Linked DNA regions of Homo sapiens: region 2 is linked to region 1. A link means that fine-mapping ties the variant in region 1 to the expression of a gene that starts in the linked region. Tissue or cell type: whole blood. Region 1 holds a variant in brackets; the other region holds the start of a gene. All regions are shown on one strand. Distances are from middle to middle.

Region 1 (2,688 bases):
GCAATGAGGAGTCAAATGCGAATTGCCAAGACACCGGGGAAAATGTCTCCAGGGCATGTCAGAGACCTTCACAGCAGCCCGTCCCATCACAGGCCCAGATCCCTAGGGTGAAAAAATGGTCTCCTGGGCTAGGTCCAGGGCTCCCCTGCTGTGTGCAGCCTTGGGACTTGGTGACCTGCATTCCATCCACCCCAGCCATGGCTAAAAGGGGCCAATGTACAGCTTAGGCCTTTGCTTCAGAGGGTGAAAGCCCCAAGCCTTGGCAGCTTCCATGTGGTATTGGTCCTGCAGGTGCATAGAAGACAAGAATTAAGGTTTGGGAACCTTTGCCTAGATTTCAGAGGATGTATGGAAACACCTGGTTGTCCAGGCAGAGGTGTGCTGGAGGGTCAGAGCCCTAAAGGAGAACCTCTGATAGGGTGGTACAGCAGGGAAATGTGAGGTTGGAGCCCCCCACACAGAGTCCCCACTGGGGCCCTGCCTAGAAGAGGTGTGAGAAGAGGACCATTGTCCTCCAGACCCCGGAATGGTAGATCCACTGACAGCTTGTACCGTGTACCTGGAAAAGCTGCAGACACTCAACACCAGCCTGTGAATGCAGTCTGGACAGGGGGCTGTACCCTGTAAAGCCACAGGATGGAGCTGTCCAAGGCCCTGGGAACTCATTTCTTGTGTCTGCTTGACTTGGATGTGAGACATGGAGTCAAAGGATTTCATTTTGGAACTTTAAAGTTTAATGACTGCCCTATTGGATTTTGGACTTGCATGGGGCCTGTAGTCCCTTGGTTTTGACCAATTTTTCCCATTTGGAACTGGTGTATTTACCCAATGTCCAGCCCCCATTGTATCTAGGAAGTAACCAACTTTTTTTAAATTTTTTATCTTACAGGTTCATATGTGGAAGGGACTTGCCTTGTACCAGATAAGACTTTGGACTGTGGGCTTTTGAGTAAATGCTGAAATGAGTTAAGACTTTGAGAGATTGCTGAGAAGGCATGATTGGTTTTGAAATGTGAAGACATGAGATATGGGAGGAGCCAAGGGATGAATAATATGGTTTGGCTGTGTTCCCACCCAAATCTCATCTTGAAATGTAGCTCCCATAAGCCCCATGTGTTGTAGAAGGGACCCAGTGGGAGGTAAGTGATTCATGGGGGTGGCTTTTTCCC[A/T]TGGTCTTCTTGTGATAGCGAATACATTTCATAAGATCTGATGGTTTTCTAAAGGACAGTTCCCCTTCACTTCTCCTTCCTGTTGTCATGTGAAGGACATGTTTGCTTCCCCTTCCACCGTGATTGTAAGTTTCCTAAGGCCTCCCCAGCCATGCTGAACTGTGAGTCAATTAAACCTCTTTTGTTTATGTTACCCAGTCTAAGGTATGCCTTTGTTAGCAGCATAAGAACAGACTAATAGGTTCAATCAGAGTGAACTTTGTTTTCAACAAGAATTCTCCATAGCTGGTATTGTGTACTTCCTTCATGAGGCATACAATTTCTGGGTATCTCAATGTGTGATGTTGATTAGCGCTGGTAATCATTGCCCAGTAATGTAGTTTCATTAGGCATTTAAAAAACGGTGATATTCTTCCATGTCTACCATTTTTCCCTCTTTTTTTAAGCTCAGAAAATTAATGATCTTCTCTCCATTTTGCATGTTGCTTAATTTTATTTCCTGTTTCATTGAGTGGTCGTTCGAGTCATTGATTTTCACTACTTAGTTATTTTCATTGATGACTTAGATTTTTCTTTAACAAGGTTTAATTGGTTCAGTTTTTGTTTTGCAGCTACTATGCTTTATTTTCTTCTGTATAAAAGAATACCAGCTGTTTTCAAAATCTACTTTTGTGTGATTGTTCTGTATCAGGAATAGCACAGGCATTTTTTTTTCTCCCAATTATTTTTTCTGGTTCTTTAAAATTTTACTAAGTCAAGTTATTATTATTGTTCTTCCTCTCTTCTTGTGATTCTTTGGCTAATCTCTAGAGATCTAGTCTAATGGTAGACAGATTTGAGATTTTGTGACAAGTGCTAGGTTTATGGCTCTCTTTGGTGTTGGAGAAAATTCCACTGGTGCCATTCACTGCGAAAGAAAAATTTTCAAGATTCAACTACAAACTCAAGGAATGGCTTAGTGATGTGACAAAGGAAACTGTCTGTTGTATTTCTGTGATGCTGAAACTTTCATTCTTATGTGAGAGCATTATACCAATAGCAAGATTTTCAACATGAAGTATCACATGGAGTTAGAATTAGGGAGCACGCTATCTTGGGGAGATACTTCCATTCCTCTTCTCATAATCTGCATAGTAAAGAATGCTCTATTTAATAGCAGGGTAGATCTTCCGTATTTGAAAACAAGGAGTATGTCAGCTGGAGATGAGCATTTCACTCCTGCTTTCCTCTTAAATTCTCCAAATTGAGTTTAGGGTTCAGGCGGATTTTTGCATCTGTTTTCTTTTTCTAGCCCTGAAATTATTAGACATATTAGGGGCTGGAATGTTCAGGCTATCCTCAACATAATATTTCCTATACTGCACACATTAAATTGATTTTACTGAGCCAATTTCTCTGAATTCAAGTTGTATCTGCCGTAGTACCTTTCATTCCTCCCCTTGTTAGAACAACAACTTCTGGCAGCATGCCTCTCCAGAAAGACTGCCTAGGGCCGCTTGACAGAAGACACCATTCCTAG
Region 2 (2,688 bases), 540 kb before region 1:
CATAAGACAGTTACTATTAGAGTTAGTTTCAGATTCACAATAGTAAAACGCACTTTGTGTCAAAGCAATTCTCCACTGAGGACCGGTTAAGGAACTGGCAGAGAGCCCAATTCTACTTAGTCTACTGTCAGCATTTACATATAAAGTATTTTATACAAAAGACACGCATTCCTAAAATGTGACAAAAAAAGGCTCTCCCCAAAGAATGATAACTACTGGACTTAGAATAGTCAGAAGTGATTCAGATATAAAATTTCCTTTAAAAAGCAATAGCCATGTTCAGGGAAGGAAGGTAACATTAGCATTAAATTTAAATACTTCCACAATATTTAATAATAAAATAAACAATGTGCCACATCTATATATACTTCCTTTGTGACAAACTTTATCATCGAGTTTGGTAACTTTCATTCCAAGTCCAAAGAGAAGGCAATTTAAGTGACTTAACCTTGCTTGCTTTTAAACAGCTATGTATTTGACTTGACCTGAACAGCAATCCATATGCTGAAATCGAACGTGAATTGTGAAATGTGTAGACTACTATGGCAGGGATATTACTTTTTGTCCACACCAATTAAGAAGCCCTCTGTCAAGCCGGCACTTTGGTGAGGGAAGGAAATGCACAAAGGTATACTCTGACAGACAGCCATGCTTTAGGTCAAACTAATCCCAAGAATTAGTGGCTCAGAAGCATAACCCAGGGCAAATCAGTGTCTTTGGGGGGACTCATGGGAGCATCTTTCCACAGTGAACTAACTGCTAAATCTTAAGGCGTCTACTTCAAGGTCACAGAACATGCTGTGAAATATTAAAATCCACCAGGCTCCACACGCTCCACCATATCAAACATGCTAATGACGTGAACTAACTTCATGAAACTTTAAATACACTGGTGTGACAGGAACGAGTCAGGAGTGATTTCAATAGCTGATGGCAAACGGATACGACTATCTAAAAAGTTACTTTTAGCAACAAACAAGGAAATCATGGAATCTAACGAAAAAGAATGCACAACGAGCCTCAACTTCAGCCTTCAAAAAAGGCACAGGGATAGATAGACACAGTGCCGTGGAATATATTGATGCAGATTTTAGAGACAATACCCGGGTTTTCTATTTCCTCGAGAAATATCAGGGGTACTTACATGAAGGAAGACCCGATCAGATTAGTCCTTGGGATATTTTCCTTTCTTAAGAGAGAGAGAGAGAGAAAAAAAAAATAACAACAATAATCTTTACTTCGTCCAGCGTTGAAGTGCTTCTCCACCTGATTCAAACATGCAGCCACGGCGACCCACACAGAACCTTCAAAGTCAATCCAATAGCAGCCCGAAGATGTCTGGGTGTACGCGTGTGCTCAAGTGTCTGTGACTGCGAGCAGAGCGAGCAGAGAGCTGGAGACGATGTGTGCGTGTGTGCGCGCGCGCGAGGGGAGCGCGCGCGAGGGGGGGGGCGCGGGGCCGCGCATTCGCGCGCGCCGAGGCCGCTCGGAAGAGGAGGAGGAGGAGGAAGAAGGAGGAGGAAGAGAAGGAGGAGGAGGAGGAGGAGGAGAAAGTGGCTCTCAGCGGCCGGTCGGATTAAAAGTAACCAGACTCGTCCAGAAAACTGCGTCCAGGAAGGAAGTGACAGAAGACGAATGGGAAAAGGAGAACAGCTCACAGCGTTTGAAACATCGCGTAAAAAAGACTGGGGGTGGTGGGGGCGGGGGGGATTGAAGGATACTGGGAGGGGAGGCGGGGGTGGTAGGGAAGACGGAGCACGAATGGTTGGGGTTCTAAGCAGCACGTCCGATGAAATGTCTTTTGCCTCCTTTTTTCCCCCTTTATTTAATTTTGTCCTTGCCTTTGCTTCGCGCTGCCTTTTTCTCTCCGTCTCTCTCTCCCCCACAATCCCAAACCGTTGACTCTTTCCTCGCGAGCTGGAGAAATCATCAGTTTCACTCTTGCAAAAGGGGGGCGGGACTAGACCTCGGAGCATTTTAATAAAACAAACATACAGCAGCTCCCTCCTCACCCCTCCAGTCTCAACTAGATTGATAAATTACTCCACTACACTACTTTAATTATGTATATGGTATGCAGAATAAATCACTGAACATCAGTACCTCAATCAAGCACTTTTAAATGATAATTGCATCTTGGTGAATCAATCTTTCCATTCCTGACATTTTGCTAATTTTAGTTTTACGGTGGGGTAATAGCACATGCCATACGCAAACCTAATGACAATTCTTTATTGCACGAAATGAAGACAACACGGCGAGCTGCGGCTCCCTGCTCCTCTCGCGGCGCCTCTGCGGAGGACGCTCGGAGAGAACCTAGTCTCCCGCTGCGGCGCGCTCGCTTGCTCTCCGGGGACGCTGCGAGCCAGCCAGCAGGAAAGTCCTTCTAAAGTCGGGATCTTTCCTCTGACCAATAGGAGCGCGACCCTAATAGTTGCTCTTGTGACTTTTCCCCCTTTTGGACACGCGTTAGCCACTTCTCTCTTCCACCGGTCGGTGCGCTCCTCCGTTACTCACGCGTAAAAACCACGGTCCAGGATGTCTGCAGCACTCGATTCCAGCGTGCTTTTCCTGCACGCCCAGAAGTCGCGGTTTTCACCCTGAGAGGTTGGAGCGCTAGAAAGCGAGCCGAAAGGTTTCTCTAATGTTAGTAATGTACGAAATAATAAAATAATTACCAGTATTTGA

The links. PIP is the estimated chance that this variant, and not a neighbour inherited with it, causes the effect.
Region 2: MEF2C starts here. The variant in region 1 is fine-mapped to the expression of MEF2C in whole blood (TOPMed, PIP 0.94).

What each region holds. Positions count from the first base shown.
Region 1 is chr5:89,417,563-89,420,250 of GRCh38, forward strand. The region is part of intron 8 of MEF2C-AS1 (MEF2C antisense RNA 1); the gene reads left to right. Among named protein-coding and RNA genes, the nearest start is that of LINC02161, 160 kb to the right of the region's middle. The variant A/T (reference allele first, on the strand shown) is at 1,170.
Region 2 is chr5:88,881,811-88,884,498 of GRCh38, forward strand. It overlaps MEF2C (myocyte enhancer factor 2C), which reads right to left and starts at 1,374. Exons shown (of 11, transcript NM_002397.5): 1 at 1,145-1,374. It overlaps MEF2C-AS1 (MEF2C antisense RNA 1), which reads left to right and starts at 1,520. Exons shown (of 10, transcript NR_136219.1): 1 at 1,520-1,675. RefSeq lists an enhancer at 2,432-2,481.